2 separate regions of the Homo sapiens genome follow, and region 1 is linked to region 2. Evidence: fine-mapped expression QTL. A gene starts in region 2. The other region holds a variant in brackets. All regions are shown on one strand. Distances are from middle to middle.

Evidence for each region. PIP is the estimated chance that this variant, and not a neighbour inherited with it, causes the effect.
Region 1: its variant is fine-mapped to the expression of RBPJ in whole blood (TOPMed, PIP 0.92).

The regions. Positions count from the first base shown.
Region 1 is chr4:26,071,126-26,082,506 of GRCh38, reverse strand. It overlaps LINC02357 (long intergenic non-protein coding RNA 2357), which reads right to left. Exons shown (of 3, transcript XR_925506.3): 1 at 10,487-11,381; 2 at 1,917-2,057. Among named protein-coding and RNA genes, the nearest start is that of LINC02357, 6.1 kb to the right of the region's middle. RefSeq lists enhancers at 1,128-1,307, 7,496-7,575. The variant G/A (reference allele first, on the strand shown) is at 5,972.
Region 2 is chr4:26,315,431-26,326,811 of GRCh38, reverse strand. It overlaps RBPJ (recombination signal binding protein for immunoglobulin kappa J region), which reads right to left and starts at 5,798. Exons shown (of 11, transcript NM_015874.6): 1 at 5,764-5,798. The coding sequence starts at 5,783. RefSeq lists enhancers at 4,421-5,342, 6,575-6,624, 7,715-7,764 and silencers at 5,455-5,554, 5,625-5,754, 7,225-7,494.

The DNA of each region.
Region 1 (11,381 bases), 240 kb after region 2:
CTATTTCTTGAAATCTTGAGTTTTTCCTCAAAATGTATTAGCTTGATGGGAGAAGAGCGGTTGTGGAATTGTTTCTCAAACCTGGAAAACAAGCATCCCACAAACCCAACTCACTTATTTTAAAAATGAAGATCCTAAGACTCAGAGAGATTAAGTGACTTGGCGAATTCATCTAATTAGTAAGACAGCCAAAATCCATACCCCATGTTTCCTAATGCTGGAATTCTTTCCATTATACCACTCCAGAGAGAGAGTGTTAGCCCTGAGGTGAAACCACTCAGGGACTGCTTAATAACAAAGTTCAATTAGACCAGAGGGAAGGCGCTGTAGAGAAAAGTGCTAATGCAGAGAGCTTTAATTAGTGTCTGGCTAATTCATCCTCAGATAAGTACAGTGTAGTGTTTGTGTTAGCACCACCTACTGGTGAAAATTTAGACTTGTACAGGATTCCTTTTATGGAGTTGCAGGTAGAATGGGAAAAATCTCCGGAAGATTTGGACTGCTTTAAACTGTCTTATTCTAGAAAGAAGTCGGTAGAAAAATGAGTAGGTATGGAGTCATTGAGTCATGAACCATAAGGACTTCAACTTCTGTGGTCTCAGAATTGCTGTGAATGAAGTTCCAATTTCCTGCAGCAACAAAGTCAGTTTCCTGTTCTTCCTATCGGCTATGTAGAATGTAAACCTCTTCATTTTTCTATAACCTAATTTCTAGTTTAAGTCTACATTCTTCTAGTGGCAGGAAACTTAATATATAGTGTCTTCCTGGTAAAAATCACTCACTTCAGTGTTTATGCAGTCATGCCGGTTTCAGTCACTCAATTCAAAATTTCATGCCCTTCCCTTCTTCTTGGGGTTGCTGGTAAGATCCTGGAAATATAGGATGGTGTAGGTGTAGAAAACGGGGTTCTGGGGGACTGAGAGAGGGATGGGGTGGTATGGTCCACAGGCATCCTTAGCCTGAAGCAGACCTGGTCTTTGGCCATCAGCACCTATGCGTAGTGGCACCCAGGGGCCATACTTGGAGGCTGCCAAGTCCTCCATTGTTAGAAAGCCCTCCATCTCCACTGTATCTTCTTGTCCCAACCTCAAGCTCTGCTCAGGTCTGCGGCCCTCTTTTGGCCATTTTGTGCCCATTTTGGAGGCAGGAGCAAGGGAAACTTTAGGATGCTCTCTTACATGGGCCTGGCTGTGACAGATCGGGGGCTTTCCTGGGGCCTCCCCACTGCTTTGCTCTGTTGCGCTCTCTTCTCCACTATGGCCAGCATACAACGCAGGGGATGGCAAACTATGCCCTGTAAAGGGCCAGACAGCACGTATTTTAGATGAGTACTCCACTCTGTTACTGTAGCACAAACGCTGCCACAGGCAATAGATAAATGAACGGGCATGGCTGTGTTCCAATAAAACTTCACTTACAAAAGGAAGTGGCATGCTGCATTTGGCCCTCAGGGCCCTTGATGATCTCGGTATGTATCTGTGCTGTTCTCCCCTAACTCCAGGCGTCTCCCGTAGATCAGGGCACACATTCTCAGGTCTTGGCATTACTAAACCTATCTTGATGATTTATCACCCGCTACCCCACTTCAGAAAATCACAAGACGAGGGAGCAGGCAAAGTGCAGGACCCCTCAGGGCTATGTCAGCATCTTCTTCTTCCCTTCTCCTCTTTCCCTAGCTAGAGCAACCATCCTTTCCTCTCTTTCCATTCTCTTGTTTGTAGTATAAACTTTTATGTCGTGCTTACGTGGGGCTTAGCCTTTAGATTTGATCACACTTTTCTATCACAAACCTTGGCTATGGAGGACCCACCCAATCTCTGTAATAAGAGTCAAGAGCCTAAATGATTCAAAGTCAAGAACTTGACATTTGTTCTGTGTTCTTCATAATCCCTCCCTTCCCTGTGAGTAGTGGATACCTGGAGTGACTGGGAATATGGTCCCATGATGTCCTCTAACCCTTGCTAAGTTCTGGGCTTTGACCAAGCCTCAGCCATACTCTGAGGGCAGCTGGATTCAGGTAAGTTTGCTGGTCTGGTATTTGTTCCTCTGTCTTTATCCTATGAGGAAATAAGAAGAGTAAGGTTAACTTGACATTGTTAAAAAAACTGCTCACTCACATGAATAGAAATGAATCCTTTTGGGGCAAAACCATTTAGAACAGAGCGTTTCAAACTGCAAATTGCAACCCTTTAGGGTAGGGGTAGGCAATTTTTTTTCAGTAAGGGCACAAATTGTAAATATTTTAGGTTTTGTGGGCTGTACTCAACACGCAACTCTCAACTCGCAACTGCTCAACTCTGCCACTGTAGTGCGAAAATGATCAAAGACAATGGGTAAACAAGTGAGCGTGTCTGTCCTGTAATTAAACTATTTATGAATACTAAAATGTGAATTTCATATAATTTTCACCAGTCATGAGATATCATTCTCCTTTTGATTTCTTCCAACCACTTAAAAATGTAGAAAATTTTTAATCTTATCTTTTTAACTTTTATCTTATCTTTTTTATTTTATTTTTTGAGACAGAGTCTCAAAAAGTTGTATGGAGTGCAGTGGTGTGATCTCAATTCACTGCAACCTCTGCCTCCTAGGTTCAAGCAACTCCTGCCTCAGCCTGCAGAGTAGCTGGGACTATAGGCATGTGCCACCATGCCCAGCTAATTTTTCTCTTTTTACTAGAGACAAGGTTTCGCCATGTTGGCCAGGCTGGTCTCAAACTCCTGGTTTTAATGCAATCTGCCCACCTTCGCCTCCCAAAGTGCTGGGATTGCAAGTGTGAGCCACCGCGCCTGGCCAAAAATGTAAAAAACATTTTTAGCTTACAAGCCTTACAAAAAGAGGTGGTTAGTTAGATTTAGCCCTGGGCCATAATTTGTTGACCCCTCAATTAAGGGGGTCATGAAATCAGTTAAGTGATACTGGACAAAGAATTTTTTTAAAAAGAAATAAGATAAAGTAGAATGAAGGAGACAAAATATCAGAATATACTGTACACAAAAAAGGTTTTGTAAAATGTTGATTTCAGTTAATACACATTTGTGTGTATTGCACTGTGATGCAAAATGTATTTCTTGCTGTGGAATGTGGCTGGAAAAAGTTTGAAAATCAATTTGGAGAAACATTTCTTTCAGTGTGACATTTTTATTTCCAAAGAGTTATGCCTTTGTTTATTCCACACACCTTAAGATTTGATGTTAGTGTTGCCAGATAAAATATAGGACACTCAGTTAAACTTGAATTTCAGATTAAAAATAAATAAATTTTTAGTATAACTATGTTCCATGCAATGTTTGGGAAATACTCATACTAAAAATTACTCATTTCTTATCTGAAATTCAAATTTGACTGAGTATCCTGTCTGTTTTTCTAAACCAGACAATCCTATGTGGTATATTACAATTGGTTATTATTATTATTGTAATGATCTTAAAACTCAGGTAGGGGCAGCCCAGTTCAGCTGGTAACTTAAGGGAAAATTGACATTTAACAGTTCTTCCTATATGCCAGGTTTTGTGCCCTCTCACAATTGCAGAAGCACTAGCCCTCACTACAGCCCTCTAGGAAAGGTACAGCTTTGTTATCTTCACTTTACAAGTGAGGAAACTGAGGCACAGTCTGACCTCAACAGGGGATTTAACAGTATAAGAGGGATGGTTCCAAGTCCTTGCCACACCACCAGGCTGTTGGGAAAGGCAAGCCCTGTGAAAGGGCCACCAGCTGTTCTTGGTCCTGGTGGTGCAGTCAGGAAGGCGGAGGGGACAGTGGGAGTGGCAATGAGGGTGCATTGTCCATGGAGTATTGAGCCCAGTGTAAAGATGATCGAAGTCATTTTATATTCACTATGCAATGCCAGTGATAACCTGTCCCCTCCCCATCGAGGCTGACTTCCCCACCCGCTTGACATGCCACTATTTGGCATATGATTGGTGCTCAGAAAATGTTACTTTCCTCTTTCTTCCTGCTCTTCTTTTCTCTACCTTGGCAAATGAGTTGCAAACCACTTGCCCATTCTGATTAGTAATGACAGCCTGGACTGCTGGATTGGGAAGGATTCTGGAGTTGAGTCTTTGCTCAGAGTAAATGAGTGCTGTGCTCTGGAGGCTCATCTGCTAGAGAGAGGTAAGAAGTGGGTACATAGATAGATACCACCTGCCACCCTATAGTTAAACGCTTTAACCTACAGAGCACAAGCAAGCATGCTGAGCAACGATTCCCCGCAAGCCCAAAACTCCTTCCCACTTAAGACAAAGTAAGAGAGGAAGAGGAAGAGAGTTTCTATCCATCACATCACCTTGTCCCACCCCCTCTAACACACGCAACTCCTGAGTGACCTGGAGCTAGATGCTGGAACACAGATTGGAGAGGCACAGGCAGGCTGGACAGGCAGGCAGGGCACAGGTTTGCTGGGCACCAAAGGCCAGAGGCAAGTTAATATCTCCCCTCCCACTGCCCTTCGCTGCCTGAAGCTTTTGCACTCGGCTCACCATAGTGTGACCAGGTGCCTCTGTTCACATGCGCCTTTTTGGAAGCTGTGGGGAGGAATGCCCTTCCTTGACTCAGTTATGTGCATGGCTGGAGGCAGGGCTACAAAAATAGACTGAAGGCAAGACTTTCCACTCTTCCATTTCCCCAAAAGTAGTTTCTTCTTGGACACAAACTGCCATCTTCTCTAAATTCCCAAATTGAGTAACCACTTGGAAGGCTTTCTTGTTTTTTTTTTTTTTCTTTTTTTTTTTCAAATGATTTTTCCAGCTGTAATTTTTCTTCAGTATGGAATTTTGCTCTTTCTGCCTTGAACTTCATTATAAATCCAAGTTTAAAATCAGAACTATTATAAATAGCCTTTGTGTACAGCAAGCGTTTGGGCATGCCATGTTTTAACCTTGAAGTAGCCTCCCATTTAGGTGGCTCTATAATTCCTCAGCTTGTCCGTTTATCCTCTGCCCCCCCAAATTGGAGGTAATATTAGAAAGGCCATGTGCGGGCACACCTTCAGATGAAAGGAGTTGATATATTTAAGCGCATGTTTAAGGTCAGAGAGAAGGAATGTTCAAAAGCATAGAAAGGTATTCGGATAGTTTCTTGGATATTTAATACCTTTGGCAACACCTTATTTTCTTGAATTAGGGTCTTGTGGGTCTAGAAATGGCTTCCAAAACTATTTAGTCAATTTCCTCTTGGGGAGCGGTGGTAGAAAGGGGCAATCCTTCCTCTTACAGCTCAGGCCAACTTTCTATTTTGTACAGAGGTGAGGATATTAGTCATGATATGAAGGAGAATCCACGACATTTTGATAATTCTGGCATATGTACATCCGAAAATTGCAAATTTAATTTTTCTTAGCATACCAGAGAGACGAGTCTTCAAGGAAATGGGTCTGACTCTTGAGCTTTGTTTGGTGTTGCTTTGGCCAAATGATTTGGTGAGTCACTTGTTATGGCTTTCCCTCGGGGTTCAGTGTTGTTTTTCACTGTGCCCTTAAAACCAACTTCTAGGCCACTTAGGTGTCTTGACCAGACTTTCTGGGGCCATATTAATTCCAACCTCAGAAATTTTGTTCCTGCTTAGATATCCCCAGGTTTTCTCTCCCCTACATCTATCCTTCTACACAATCCAGATTTCAAGGTCCCTTACAGATCTCAGGTCGGTCAAGCCATCCTTGACTTGTGAAAAACCCTGCGATTTCTCCCATCTTTGAATGCCTTTTGGGATCATCATCAATATCTAATCTTTGCACTTGATCTCTAAGAATCATCTACATTGTTTAAATTTTTCTTAAGGGAAAAGGCTATGTCTTACGCTTTTTCTATATTTTCCAAAACACCTGCCCCATGTTGGGCATGCCCCAATCAATACTGGATTGATAAATGATTGAGAAGTCTTCACTAGGCCTACAGTTCATGCATCTATAAACATGGAGCTTCCCTTTATCTTTGTAGGGTTTGACCAGAATTTGCCCCCAGCCTTACCC[G/A]ATTACAGGAAAAATAGTGTTCAAAGTAGGAAGCTAGTTCTGTGAATCCACATTTCCTTTGTTGGGCAATGATCTAGCTGCATGTGGCATAACATTTGCTGACACACAGTGTACTCACTCTTTTTTTTTTTTTTGGTCAGAAAAAGACTATTTCCATTCAAGTCACAAGTGGTGAAGGGTGGTGTGGTTTCTCTGTGACCTTAGGCGAGTCATTTCACCACCTTCAGCTGCAGTTTCCTCTTCTACAATTTTCCACCTCTAAGGTTGGCAGTTCTATGGTTTGGGGGCTGCTCAATGCTTCTAAGATCTCATCTAACAGATTTGTTTGCATGACAATGGGAAGGATTCTAAGGTTCAACTTCATTCTCCGCTCTGGATCTAATGTGGATGGATGGGGCCAGCAATGCTAGTAATTATTGGCTGGGACCTTCTCTCTGTATTAACCAGAGCTCCTTATATCATTCTAGCTAGCAGCTCAGAGCCTACCTTGAGGATGGCGGCATTAATCTGTCTGCTTAGGGACATCTAGACATTCTGCTAATCGTTCTTGCTACCACTATGGATATCCCTGATAGTGCAGAATCTTCTGCCTGTGGTTCTGTAAATGGGCCAAGTTAATTCTTCTGTTAGAGCCTTTGGAAAATTCAAGACAGGTACCAGTGACTAATAAAGTGACTAATAAAGGCTATATTAAATGCCCTTTCTCTTTCTTTTTTGTGGTTGATGCAACAACAAGATTGTCTAGTCTTGTTAGCCATAATTTTATAAGTTGTTGGCTTTGGTGATATATTTCTGCTTTATCATTTTAGGTGTCACATCTTGAGGACAGATGTCTTGTGTAAGACATGGGCTGATTTTCACTCGACAAAAATTGGCCCTTGTGTTAGAGGGAGAATAGAGGAAACCACTCTATTATTAGACTTTGAAATGAATGTTTATGGCCCTATAAAGTGACTAGCTAGTCTGCTGTCTGCCATGATTGAAGAGAGATCTAAAGCTAGGTCTAATTAAGAAATATCTATTATCTGATTGCTGTTGTGTTTAATAAGCTATTTAAAACAGAGAAATTATTTTGTGGAATTTAAAAAAGTGAGTTGATTGGATGCATCGGATTTGGACTTCTAAAGGATTTGCAGCATTTTTTCCTAAAAAGGCATTGTTCAGTGGGAAGTGACAGTGGGATTATTGCTCCTTGTTAAGTAAATTCAGCATGTGATTTATGTGCTTATATTTCCATGCACATTCAAGGAACCAATTCTCCTTTGAAATTTCCAAAATAGTGATGCCAAAAGAAAAAAAAAGAAGAAAGCGAGGAAGGAAAATCAGAGTTTCAGAAGAAAGTAAGCTGTTTGGATTAGAACTGAAACCACATGGGGTCCAGAAATCTTGTAATATTCTGCCCATTAAAAGTTCTTCTGCAAATAAATGTGCACATGCAAAAGTGGGGGTCGGAAAGCCATCCATTTGGATTCAGCAGCATGTCAGCCTAATTATACTAGACAATGCTGAGCTCAGTAATTCCACTTTTGATCCATTGCTGTGTGAAGTTCATTATTATCTGTTTCGAATTATTGTTCATTTCAAGAGCCGTACAATGAAAAAGCATGTCAAGACTGTGAAAGAGCCCTTGGCCTTCCCCGAAAGCTTTGTGAAACATTTCTTTGGAAACATTTCTGCTGAGATGGTGCATTGGCCGTGAGTGGGTGTAGGGGATGGGCGTCTGTGCTTCCCCTTTTCACATTTGTTTACCTTAAATACATCTCCATGGAAACAAGACCTGCTTCTGAGTTGACTTGAGGGTTGTCTGTAAGAGGAATGAATAGCAAAATATAGATAGCTAAAATTCTCATATAATCCAAAAAGGATCAGCCAAAGTGAGGGACACTAAGTGTCATTGAGCCCTCTTCAAGACTGATGATTTTAAATAAGGTTTCTCATGTAACGCTGAGAGGTAGACGGTATTGTCTCTGTTTTACAGATGAAGACCTTTAACTTCTAAATGTTTACTCAAATAGGAAGCGACAAACCCAGATTTGAACCCAGAACTGTCTGATTCTGATGCCCACGCTCTTTCTATAAAACCACATTGCCAGTCGTTTCACCCTTTCCTCCCACCTGCCCCAAGCATTTTCCAGAATTGTATAAAAATGGGCTACCCTTGATGTTTCCGTCTTTTGGGTGATTAAGTGCTTGGGAGGGAAAAGGTACTATGAAGAAAGAAAAACAAGCAGTCTGCATCATCTAAATGTGAAATCACCAACAGCAGCATAAACAATTGTCCCCTGTACTTCCGGAATCCCAGGCCAGGCCAGAAAAACCTCAATTTGCTAACAAAGCCTCAAGTAGGAAGGCCTCCATTTACCTAATTGTTGTCTTTGCTGCACTTTGAGGAGAAAACAAGACAGTGGACTGGAAAGAGCCCCAGAGATATGAGTTCAAATCTTGACCCCACCACTTATGACTTGCGGGACCCCCAGCCTCAAATGGGTAACTTCTCTGAGCCTCCAGTGTCAACAGGGTCTCTTGATGAGGCAGGATCTGGCCCAGGGTTTCCTGGTGGCCCATGGCAATAGGCAATACCCTTTACATATTGACTTAAGTCCACAATCTCTGTCTCAGATATATTAAAAATTTAGTTTGCAGACAGAGTCAACAAGGGTTGGGAAAGAACTCACACTGAGGAAATGGTCCTGTGTGGGGAGGTGGGCTCCAAAGCCAGGCCTGAGTGTTCAGGAGGCAGAATGGCCCTGGTACTATAATGTGGCTGGTACTGGATCTCAGCCTTACCCAGAATTTAAACAGGTTTGCCATAAATGCCATTGCACTAGAATTCTGGAACTGGTTGTGGGACCCCCTCACATCGACTGCAACTGATTGTAACATGAAAAGAGCACTTTCCTCTTTTTTTTTTTTTTTTGAGACAGGGTCTCACTCTGTCACCCAGGCTGGAGCTCAATGGCATCATCTTGGCTCACTGAAGCCTCAGCCACCAGGGTCCAATTGGTTTTCCTGCCTCAGCCTCCCAAGTAGCTGGGATTACAGGCGTCTGCCACCACACCTGGCTAATTTTTGTATATTTAGTAGAGACGGGGTTTCACCATGTTGGCCAGGCTGTTCTCGAACTCCTGACCTCATGCGATCTTCCCTCTTTGGCCTCCCAAAGTGCTGGGATTATAGGCATGAGCCACCACACCAGGCCTGCATTTTCCTCTTTATTTCACAGGTGACAAGATATCTAGCTTTGAGGTTCAGCTCTGATGGTACCCAAGAAATGGAGACAGCTGGAACCCTGAGTGACCCCTTCAATAGAACATTGAGGACTTGAAGCCAAAAATCCTAGCTCTGTGATCCATAGCTATAAGTGGACAACCAAGTAGGATCCGTGTTTAGGTGGTCCTGAGTTTTCTCATATGAAGGTATGATCCACTAAATATTGAACTTTCTCTGATCAAGGAAGTAGGGCTTTGGAGCCACTGAAATTTGTGTGGAGATAATAGTGAGAGTAGACCACACACATTGGAGAAGTTACCTTTTAGGTTATTGAAAAGATCAAGAGCAGTGCTGGCACAGAGTAGGACTTCAATAAATGTGAATTACCTTGATGTGTTTGGAGTACAAGCCCAAGTCGGCAAAAAATGTCCTGGATGCTGGACAAAAACCTCCATGGTGGCCCAGATCTCAAGGGGCATTAAGCCAAAGAGATCAGCTATCAGGGCGCAGTGCGAAAGAAACATTGACTCAGGAAGAGGAGACAAGGTGTCAATCTGGAAATTAGCTGGGAGGAGGCAGAACAAGAAAGGCAAGCCACGAGGCCTCCAACTGGAAGGGCAGGAGGAGACCCAGGGGTGCAGAGACTTAGCCAAAATTACACATTTATACAGAGCAAAGAAGGGACCAGAGCCTAATGGCTCTCTTCTCTTCCTTTAACTTACTATTATTATTATTATTATTATTATTAGAGACAGGCTGCAGTGCAGTGGCACGATCTCGGCTCACTGCAACCTCTGTCTCCCAAGTTCAAGCGATTCTCGTGCCTCAGCCTCCCAAGTAGCTGAGATTACAGACACATGCCACCATGCCTGGCTAATTTTTGTATTTTTAGTAGATGGGGTTTCACCATGGTGACCAGGCTGGTCTCGAACTCCTGACCTCAAATGATCTGCCTGCCTCAGCCTCCCAAAGTGCTGGGATTATAGGCATAAGCCACCACACCCAGCCTAACTTTAAACTTTGATACAATTTTAGACTCACAGAAAAGTTACATGAATAATAAAAATAATTCTCATAGGCCTACATACTTTTCACCCAGATTCCCCCAATGTTAACATTTTATCACTTTGCTTTATCCTGTATCTCGATCTATCTCCACATCTGCATCCTCACTAGTATTATATTTTTTCTGAACTGTTTGAGACACAATGTCCCTTTACATATTTCAGTGTGTATTTCCTAAAAATAAGAACATTCTCTGAATGTACAATGACAAAATTCAGGAAATTAACATTGATACAATACCTTTATCTAGTAAACAGGCCTTATTCAGATTTCACCAATTGTCCCAATACTGTCCTTTAAAGAACAGCATTTTGCTTTAAAGCAAAAGATAATCCCACATCATGCATTGCATTCAGTTGTCACGTGTCTGCAGTCTCCTTTAATCTGCAACACTTCCTCAATCTTTGTCTTTCATGATATTGACATTTTTGAAGAATACGGACCAGCTATTTTGTAGAATGTTTTTCAAGTGACATTTGCGTGATGTTTCCTCATGAGTAGATTTAGGTTATGCTATTTTTTTTTTGCAGGAATAACACAAATATGATGTTGTGTTGTTGTGTTTTCCCCAGTGCATCACATCAGGAGGCAAATGCTGTGGATTTTTCTCATCTCTTGTAACACTAACTGATCAGTTAGTTAAGGTGGTATCTGCTAGGTTTTATCATTGGAGGGTTATTAGTTTTGCTTTGTCATTAAGAATCTGGAGGGCGGATACTTTGAGACTATCTAAATAGTCTGTTATTTCTCAAACTTGCCCACTCCTTAGCATCCATTAGTGTTCTTACTTGAATCAATTATCATTAGGACGGTTGCCAAATGGTAGAACCCAGACTCTTGACCTTTCTATTTCAATCAGCAAATAATGTGCATGGCCTTCACATCTTCTGCATAGGCCTCCATGCCTTCGCTCACGGCTTCCTCTCTCTTGAAACATCCTTCTACCCCTTAATATTTGCCAACTTTTTTTTTCAAGACCCTCTGAGGATTCATCTCCAAGGATCGACTTCCTGTTTCACCTCAACCTACAGTGACCATTCTCTTCACCTCCTTTGTACTCCTGCCTTTAACATTTCTCAGTTTCCAAGCATTTCTTGAATGTTGGCTTTTCCTTACCATGTGACTAGGGCTATGT
Region 2 (11,381 bases):
AAGATGAAAGGTTACCAGAGGAAACTGATTCTTATAGTAATTAAAATATTTGTATAGAACGCTTTACTGTTTACAAGTCACTTACACATACACTGTTTCATTTGACCTTATTTCACAAAATTTACCTTATTTGACAGTCACAATGTGCCTGACAGATAAAATATAATTATCATCCCCTATTTTATAGAGGTAGAACCTGAAGCTTAAAGAAATTATCTGTCAGTAATATGTCCATGAGACCTGAGTCTCCATGTAAATTATCAACTTATTATTTGGTTCTATGGCATGGATTCCCCAAAAAGCAGTCTACAGTGTTCTACGGTTTAATCTAACATACATCCCTAGCCATCTAGTACTGAAAACAGTTAAAAATAATGGAATCTTTTGATAAACACTGACAGCCAATCATATAAAAAACAAAAGTGAAATTTAAACTTGTCAGTTTTATACAAATATAATGTAGTATTTTCTAATAATCAAAAAAAAAAACTTTTGCCTAAGAGCCTTACTATAATGTTCTCAGGGGCTATGAGATTGCTTGTGGCTGAAAATATCAATTCCTCTGGGTACTTCAGCAATTACTCCTTACAGAACCAAAGTCAAATACCTATATATAAATTATACATATATATGAATTAGACACACATATACTGTATACACACAAGCACACACACAATTTTAAAATTGTGCCACATGAACCATGTTGCACCAAGATTTCAAAGCACTGAGTCCTATGTTCAAAAATTCTTTTTGCTGAGTCTCTATCATGTGATAGACAATCTTCTAAGTATAAGAATATAAATGATACCTGCCACCAAGTGACAATATTTGGGTGTGATAATTACAACTTAGTATCATGCTTCCAAGAGAATTATATACAGCATTTAATACTGTATTAAATATACAGTATTTATACAGCCAGGCACCAACTGTAGTCTGGTAGATCTGGTTAGAATATTCCCTTAGTCTTGAGAAATAACCTACTAAGGATCATTACTTTTCATACACAAGAACGCATTAAACTGCTGGGCTCATGCAGAGATGTCAAAATACTTTAATATGACTGAAGCACTGATTATGGAGAGAAAATGGCAAACAACTCAGCTGGAGAAGAGACAGATGAAATAGTTATGGAGGATCCTATGCGCCACAGTAGCTAACATCTTTTGAGCACTTGCTACATGCCAGGAATTCTGCTAAATGCTTTCATACATTATCTCATTTAATCTTCACAACAACTTTCTGAGTTAGGAATAATTATCTTGCAATTGATAAAGAGATTAACTTGTCAATGTTACAGGGGTTTTAACTGGCAGGGGTTTTAAGTGCCAGAGACAGAATTGGAACCCAGTTCAGATTAAACACTAAATGTGAGCTCATAACCCTCCACTCTGTTGCCTCTCTTAATGAACGCTGCTAGGGGGAGCCATTGAAAGGTTTTTAGATTAAGCAGTGATCAGATTTGCTCTTTAGAAAGACTGCTCTGCTACATGTAGAAGCTGGATAAAGGTGGTGACTCTAGAAGCAGAAAGAGGCTGTCAGTACGTCATAGTAAACCAGGTGAGAAATGACAGCATGAACTTCGGCAGTGAGGATAAGGGAAACAAATTCAAGAGATTTTTTAGAAGGAAAAATGATCAGTTCTCAGTAATTAAATGTAAAGGCTGGTGAGAGAGGAATTAGGAATCGTGGCTTTGGGAACCAAACGGAATATGGTATCATCTACCAAGAACAGAGAAGCAACAGGTTTCATTCAGTCAATACGTATCTACAGAGTGCTCCTCAAATGCAAAACACTTTTCTAAGGCCAAGAGTCAAATCTGAAATTATAGTCATGGTTATTAGAATTTATTCTTAAGAGCAAATAACAAAGCACTAAAAAATATAAGGCATATTTAAAATTAATCACTGCTATTAACAGACTTGGCTTAGAGTCCAGTGAAAGCATGTTGTACTACCATTTGTTAAATATTACTACATGCAGGCCAGGCATGGTGGCTCACCCCTGTAATCCCAGTACTTTGGGAGGCCAAGGTGGGCAGATCCCTTGAGGTCAGGAGTTTGAGATCAGCCTGGCCAACATGGCGAAACCCCATGTCTACTAAAAATACAAAATTAGCCAGGTATGATGGTGTACGCTGGTAATCCCAGCTACTCAGGAGGCTAAGGCACGAGGATCGCTTGAACCCAGGAGGTGGAGGTTGCAGTGAGCTAAGATTGTGCCACTGAACTCCAGCCTGGCCACAGAGTGAGACCCTGTCTCAAAAAATAAAATAAAATAAATAAATAGAATATTGCTACATGCAGAAAACAAAAGAGGAAAGGCATCCCATAATTTTATAATGTTATTACATTTGAGTTTGACAGAACTTCAATCTCTTACACCACACACACACACACACACACACACTCACACACGACACATCACCCTGTAATTTGTTTTATTTGTCCCTTTCCCTATAAGTTTATGGGGGGCAGGAATAAAGGTATCTGTTTTATTACCCATATTATAATACATATTTGGGATTTTAAAAAATCCCACTATCGCTACTGTGTCTTGCCAAGAACTTAAAAACCTCCTATTTGACTTCCTATAAAATATGACCTACTTCACATTAGCTTATTTCAGTAACAATTCCTAGACCTTCCCCACAGTTTTCATCCAAGGATGCTCTCTGCGAATCTTAAGGCACAGCAATCCTGTGCAGATGTGGCAAGTTATTATAATTCCCATTTTACTACATAGTTAGGAAACTGGCCCAGGGGAAGTAGAGTAACTTGGAAATAATCACAAAGCCAGATGCCAAAAATAACAACTTTTAGTCAATCCATGAGAAAATACTGCCCCTAGTTGAGATAACATGAAATTTAGTATTAGGAGGAAGCAAAATGCAAAATAATGCTTTAAAGCCAAGTCCTGGGTCTTATTTCTAAAAATGAACAGAAGAATGAGATGTATAATAACTTTCAAACGAAACAATTTTTTCCTAATGCCTTACCCATCAAGGGTGCCAAAGGTTATTTAATGAATTACATCTGGCAAGAATGGCCTGTCAACCAAACCAATTTTGATCTTACCCACTTAAAAAAAACATTGATAGAAATCTGTTGGTATAGGACAACAGATAACTTTTTAACAAACCTAACTGCTTAAAATCTAATGCCTACAAGTGTGTATTAGTACAGATTTGAAAATATTGCAAGTCTCCTGTTTTCTGAAAATATACTCACAGATCCATCAGCAATATGCATGGATAATAAAATTTAAAGCTTTAACAGTTAATACTCAGAATGAAAGTTCTCCAGCCACAACGCATCCAGATTTCGAAATATGCTGCTGTTATAATTTAATTAAAAGCAGTTTTATTTCACCAATCATGTAAGTAAAAGTATTACACGATTTAGAAAGAAAAACGCAACTCAAATGGTAAAAGCGCTTTTATCATGTCTGTGTAATCATTCTTACAGGTACAAGTCAGAGCAAAATACCTTCCATTACTACACAGTATTTACACTTTGCTCCCAGTCAGAGAACCAGTGAGCTCAAGATTTTACCTTCAAAACAATGATTATGTACAAGAACAAGTAAGGGAGACATAAGATTATTGGTAAAACCCACTCAAGCGACCCAGACTGCAGATTTTCACAAAAAAACTTATGTATCAATCATGAAAACATGGTTTTCCATTAATTAAAACTCAAACTACTAATTCTAATCACAGCCAGAAAAAAAAGTATTTTCCAATGCTCCAATACTCGTTAGAGTAGATCTCGTATGTCCCCTATCAACAACACTTCACTATTGTAGAACTTCAGTTTGTAAATGAAATGACACTCCAAATGATTTTATGGGTAACATACCTTCTAAAAGTAGAGATCAACCAGTAGAAAAAAAACAAACTCTTGAAGAATACCTTCAGCATAGTAATCCTGGTAAATATAATAACTCTTATTCCTAGCACCCAGAATAACTCAAGTCATTAGAATACATCACACCACACCCCCCACCCCCATTCACACAACCCCAAGCTTTTAGCATTACCAAAACAATAAGAACTCGAAACACTTCAAGGGTTCTTTAACACTAGGAAGTGTCTTTAAAATAATCTCACTACAGGCTATTACGTGTGTGTGTGTATATATATATATAATATACATATTATACGTATACTTTTTAACTGCATTTGATTAATATCTTCCACAAAGATCTTAGAAGCAGTATTCATCGACCAGAAACTGCACTCTTCGGTGCTGTCCTCATTTCAACCCCAATGATGGGACAGAAGGGTTGTCACGCATCTACAGGGCAGCAAAAAGCACATAACTGTAAACTATCTAATGATTAAGAAAAAATAAAACATTTATATAAAATTCCCAAGCGGAATGCCTCTCCTTTTCCTTATGAGGCAGAAGTTACTGATAAATTCTAAATCCAGATTTCTAGAAAATGCTGAAATTCTCCGCCCCAACACTCACAAGTTTTTAACATGGAAATTCACTCAACTCCTACTCACACGCCAAATGAATATCCATTGTGGCTATCTGAAACTATTCTCAAACACTAACAGAAAAACACATATATACATCTTGAGCCTCCTTCTAACCGTCCTACGATACCCTCCAATCATCCTCAGGCAGCCTAGATTGCAAAGCTTCGACAGACAGCTGCCCTTGGCCTACGCCGTCAGGAACCAGGAGGGGGGCGGGGGCCGGGGGGCGCAAGAACCACCAAGAGACCAGATCTTTTTCCAAGGCTACTGTTTCCAAGCAAAACAACCCACGGCACTAAAAAGACGGCGATGAAAATTGGAGACGCTTTAATCCCGAGAGAAAGGGGTGGCGATAGGGGGGCGGGAGGGTACAAGAAATCCCGAGAAAAAGAGGTGCGGAGGAGAAAACTAAGTATCCCATGCATCTTTCAGACCCACAAAACAACAAACCGTAGAGTCTTGTGTGCACTTAGAAGCAGCAGATGGAGTCCCCGGGGCTGAGACAGTTCAGCAGACGTACACCGTGGGTTGTGGATAAATCAACCGATGACGGGAGAGGAAGGGGGTGCCGAGAGAATAAGCCCGTGGATGGGGGAGACAAAGCCTCGGGGGGTGATCCAGGACCATACAGAAAGGTGAGAGGGGACCCACAGGAGAAAGACAATGGAAGAACAATTAAGGCAGAAATCTGGTGCCCGGGCTGTGGCAGGTCACTGGGCTAACGACAAGAGTGTGGCACAACAAAGGGGCACGGGAGGAAGGACAGCGGAGGGGAGGAGATGGAGAGGGGATGCGGGACGCCACGGGTCGGACAAAGCGCCCAAGGCGGCGAAACAAAGGGCCGGGGGTAGAGAGTCGCAGCGGGTAGCGGTGAAAGACAAAGCGCCCGGGGCCGGGGGCACTAGCGGGGCGAAGCGGCGACAACGGCCGCGAGGAACAAAGATGCACGGGGCCCCCAGGCAGAGCCCGCTGGAGGCGCGCGGGAGGCACGGCGCCCGAGGGCCCCGCGCGCCCTGCCGCACTCACGCCCGCACCCGCCGGCCTCGCCGCCGCCGCCGCCGCCCGCCCTCACGCGCTGGAGCCTGAGCCACGGCAGCGCAGAGCGGCAGCGCACGGCCACACGCCGCCGCCGCCGCGCTCGGCGCACGCGACGCCGCCCCCGCGGGCCCCCGAACGCCAAGCGCGCCGCGGCCCCCGAACCCGCTGCCCGCCGTGAGCTGCCAGACGCCCGCAACTTTCCCGGTTCCCGGCGCTCCGATTCCCTCAGACTTACCCTGTCACAACAGGCGCCATCTTCCACAAACTCTCGCCAAAACTCCAACCCTCGCGAGATTCCCCCCGACGCCTTCCCTGGTCCCTCTCCCCCGCCCCTTCCCTTTTTCCTCACTCCTCGATTCCACCCAGCCCCCGCGCTCCCTTTCCCCTCGCCGCCGCCGCGAAGAGCCAGACGCCTCGCGCCGCCCGCAGAGTAGGGGATCCTGCTCGCTGCCTTCCCTGGAAACCTACCCAGGCGATGGAGCATGCGCAGGCGGCTCCTCCGCGGGCGAGCCCTCCGTGTGGTCCATGGGGAGCGCTCCGGTTATCCGGGTTTTAGGACGCGCTTTGAGGGACGTACGTGGAGACTGAGGAAAACCGGAGGGGATTACTACGGGGACGAGGAATGGAGGGGTCAGGAGGCGGGGCCGAGGAGAAGGGAGGAGGGGTCCTGGGAAAATGGGCTGCGTTTCACAGGCCTAGATGAAACACCTCCTCAATGGGTGTTTTCCAAGCGGCTTCCCGCTCACTCTGGGTTCCCAGCTATTTTCATTCATTCAAACGTTCCCTGGGCGCCTCCTTTATGCTAATCTCGGCGTTTGGTGCAGGAGCGCCAGAGATGTCTGGGGTTCGGGCAAGTGACACGTCGGGGACTGTCTTCATTCATTACACCCCCCCATGCTAATGAGGAGGCCCTTCCAGAGCTCCTCAAGCGGAAAACTTTTGCAGTTGAGCTCTCTCGCCTTAGCGTTCTCCTTGGGTGTGAAATGAGGTCAAGCCAAGGCCTCTAGCAAAGACACCCCTAATGGCCACCTCGCAGACACACGCCAGAGCGCGGAGTAGTTCTCTCCAGAAGGGAAAACTGCCTTGGAATTGAGAGCCACATTCTCCCACCTCCGAGTCTGCCCAGAGGACCCGATCAAAGCTCTTGCCGCTCGCGTGCTGCATGGCCTCTCTAAGACCCCATCGCAGCCACCACCGTGTGTGAGCCCAGGTGTGTGTTGAGACCACTACTGCACAGGGAACCGGGCCACCCGAGGGCCTGGCACAGCCGAGGACGCTGCCGGCTGCCCGAATCGCGCTTCAGGCGGCCTGATCCCGGAAGCCCCCGGGCAAACCTGGCCCCACCGGGCATGGAACAGCAGGGTGAAGGGCCCGAATCCCGCCCCCTCCTCCTACCTGCAGCCCCCCATCTTTCCCCTCCTTTGCTCTTTCCTTTCCTAGAGATTCCCAGATCCAGCACTGCCTCCCGCAGGGAGCCCCAAAACCCGGAGAACTGGAATTCGCCGCCCGAAACCTGTTGAAGGCGCTGCAGGATTGGCGCGGCCCGCGCGAGCGGCACTGCGCATGTACCCAATGCGGGCAGTCCAGTCTCACGCTACACCTCCTTCCCACCGCCTTCCACTACTCGGCTCAGACACAACACGGCCGTGGGAAATTTCCTAAACCTCGCGAGAACGTGCCCCTGTTGCCTAAGCTTTCGCCCCAAATCTCGCGGAGCCAAGGCAGGACAGGTGTTTGCCTAGACCAGCTCCGGGCGCCGTTCGTGCAGCGCGTGCCCGGGAGGCGGGCGGCGGGCGGCGGGCGCGGGCGGGGTGGGAAGGGAGCGGCTTGCCGCGGAGGCGGGGCGGGAAGGCGCGTGGCTGGGAGCACGGGGCGGAGGGCGGCGGGGGAGGAGACCCGCGTCTCGCACACAACACGCACACGCCCTGTGACGCTGGATGGAAGACGAGGGGTGGGGAGCCTCGAACGGAGGAAGGGGAAGCCAGGAGGTTGGAAGTCGCTGCCGGTACGGAGAGTGAGAGGTCAGGCTCTAGGGCAGGAGGAGCCCCAGGCCGATCTCCCGGGGAGGTTTCCTGTCGCCCTCCACAAGCCTGGTACTTTCCTAAAACGTGTTAGACACCGCGCCCCCCGCCTCCGGGAGCTGACAGACAGCCTCCAGAGTCGGGTTTGAGTCATGCCTTGAGTCACCTAGTCTGGCCACTACTTCGCTTACTTTGAAACAAGTTCTGATTCCTTAGCTACTCTACTTTAGCAATTGGTTTCTTTTTTTTTTTTTTTTTTTTTTTTTGAGACGGAGTCTTGCTCTGTCGCCTAGGCTAGAGTGCAGTGGCGCGATCTCGGCTCACTGCAAGCTCCGCCTCCTGGATTCACGCCATTCTCCTGCCGCAGCCTCCTGAGTAGCTGGAACTACAGGCGCCCGCCACCACGCCCGGCTAATTTTTTCTATTTTTTAGTAGACGGAGTTTTACCATGTTAGTCAGGATGGTCTCGATCTCCTGACCTCGTGATCCGCCCGCCTCGGCCTCCCAAAGTGCTGGGATTACACGTGTGAGCCACCGCGCCTGGCAGCAATTGGTTGTTTTCTTTCTAATCTACCCGCTGGCCCTGTGAGCTGGGTAGAAAAATAAATAAATAAATAAATAAACAGCTCTGCGCTCTCGCCTTGTTGCCTTGTATAGATTCTTGCTCCCGTTTAAGGACACGATTTTTAAAATTTCTTGTCAGTCTCTTCTTAGCCTTTTGAAGTAATCTTACAAATCAGTTTCTGTTTTTTCCTCCCACTAATATGGCTTTTTTGCTTTCCGTCACCTTTCCGTATTTTTATTGCAATATTCCATTTTACGTATGGCTGCGGCAGGTGCTATAGTGACTACTGTTTTAAATGCAGCCCTTCCTTTTGGATCATTCATCCAATGAGTTCCTGATTACGTAAATTCTTCAATCAGCCACGTTTCAGATTGGCCCTGATGTGGTTTCTATACCAGCCTTAGCCTGGCATTATCTAGGAACCAGTGTCTTCCTGCTCACGTCACAGCCCCGCAAATGTAGAGTTGAATTGAATTTTGATATTTGGAGGACAGTGAGTTCTCTAATAGGAAACCCTGGTTTTTAAGTTGTTTTCAAGGTTTTAGGGGTGTGTGTGTGTGTGTGTGTGCGTGTGTGTGTGTTTGTGTTTGCCTATTGATTATATACACAAAAAAACAGACTTAAAACCATTTGGTGCAATATCTCAGTGCAAGTCTGGCTTGGAACAGGATAGCTCAGGAGGAGGACAAAGCCCTTGGGGCACATATTCCTTGGAGCTGTCATCCCAAGAAGGTATTTCAGTCATGGCCTAGTCCAGACCACTGATCTAATTTGGAATCATGGCCTTCTGAGAGCCCCAGCGACCTTGGGAAGCCATGGTAACCACAAAGGGAATAACAGCTCCCCCTTTTTGCCCTAAAACATGCTCCATCTGCAGCCCTCCCCCATCTCAGGAAAGGACAACTCCATTCTTCCACTTATGTCAAGAACCTTGGAGTCCTTGCCTCCTTTCTCACACCCAAGATACAATTGGACGGAAAATCCTATTGGCTCCACCTTCAGAATATACTCACATTCCAAATACTGTCACACCTCTTTAGCTACTAGCCTAGTCTAACCCATCTTATTTCCCACCTGGTTTAAGGAAGTTCCCTAACTGGTCCTCCCTTCTTCCGTTCTTGTCTTCCCGCAGTCTGTGCTAATAGAGCATTCTCAGTGGCCCTCTAGAACTCCTCCATGACTTTCCCATTTCACTATGAGGACTTAGACAATCTTGCCTACTGCCAAACCCCCCCTGATCTATCTGCCTTCACCTCCTCCTCTACCTCTCACTCTGTGGGCTCTCACCAGTTGCCTTCCTTACTGTTCCTGGGATGCCCCAAGCACACTTTCAGCTCCAAGCCTTTGCTTTTTCCACTACCTGGAATGCTCTTCCCTCATATACCTTATAGCTCATTCCCTCACTCCTTTCTTGTCTTTGCCTGATGTCACCTCCTCAGGGAGGCCTTCCCTGACACCCTTCCCAAGAGGGACTCCCATACTCCTTATCCCCCTTTCTGCTTGATTTTGTCCATGGCACCTATCATTAACTAACATAACATTTATCATACTTGTGTGTTGTGTTTACTATCTGCCTCCTTCCATTATAATGTAATATTAATAAGGGCAAGGACTTTTGTCTAGTTTGTTCATTATTCAAGCCTTAGCTGCTGGAACAATGCCTGCTGTATTATATTTGTAGAATGAATGGGGTGTCTTCCACTTTAGGGCAGAGTAAAAATGATTCTGAAGACTAAGCCTCCTAGGGTTCAAAACAATATTAGGACTAGACTAGCAGTGAGTACTAGCCTGCCTAGGGAGGAGAAAAAGGCATATGGAGCAACCACCTGTGTTGGTTTTTTGCAAAAAAAAAAAAAAAAAAAAAAAAAAAGTCGTCTGGGTTAGACCAGTAGATGAGGCTGCACTTAAGAGTTTCCTTTACTCTCCATTTTAGAACTTCAGGAAAAAAACAACAAAAACACCACTAGCCGGATATGTGTGTGTGTGTATATATATATATACACAATATGTGTATATATATATATGTGTATATATATATATATCAATATGTGTATATATATATCAATATGTGTATATATATATCAATATGTGTATATATATATTATATATATGAATGTATATATATGAATGTGTATATATATGAATATATACATGAATATATATATGAATATATATATGAATATATATGAATATATATGAATATATATATGAATATGTATATATGAATGTATATATGAATGTATATATGAATGTATATGAATGTATATATGAATGTATATATGAATGTATATATATGAATGTATATATGAATGTATATATATGAATGTATATATGAATGTATATATGAATATGTATATATGAATGTATATATATGAATATGTATATATGAATGTATATATGTGTATATGTATATATGAATGTGTATATATATGAATATATATATATATATATGTTGCGGGAAGTCAGGGACCCTGAACGGAGAGACTGGTTGGAGCCACTGCAGAGGAAGATAAATTGTGAAGATTTCATGGACATTTATCACTTCCCTAATAATACTCTTATAATTTCTTATGCCTGTCTTACTTTAATCTCTTAATCCTGTTATCTTCATAAGCTGAGGATGTACGTCACCTCAGGACCACTGTTGTACAAATTGATTGTAAAACGTGTGTTTGAACAATATGAAATCAGTGCACCTTGAAAAAGAACGGAATAACAACGATTTTAGGGAACAAGGGAAGACAACCATAAGGTCTGACTGCCTGCGGGGTGGGGCAAAAAAAGCCATATTTTTCTTCTTGCAGAGAGCCTATAAATGGACTTGCAAGTAGGAGAGATATTACTAAATTTTTTTCCTAGCAAGGAATATTGATAATCAATACTCTGGGAAAAGAATTGCATTCCTGGGGGGAGGTCTATAAACGGCTGCTCTGGGAGTGTCTGTCTTATGTGGTTGAAATAAGGACTCAAATATGCCCTGGTCCCCTGCAGTACCCTCAGGCTTATTAGGGTGGGGAAAAAATCCTGCCCTGGTAAATTTGAGGTCAGACCAGTTCTCTGCTCTCGAACCCTGTTTTCTGTTGTTTAAGATGTTTATCAAGAGAATACGTGCACAGCTGAACATAAACCCTCATCAGTAATTCTAATTTTGCCCTCTGCCTTGTGATCTTTGCTTTTGTCCTTGCCCTGTTTCCTCAGAAGCATGTGATCTTTGTTCTCCTTTTTGCCGTTTGAAGTATGTGATCTTTGTGAACTACTCCCTGTTCG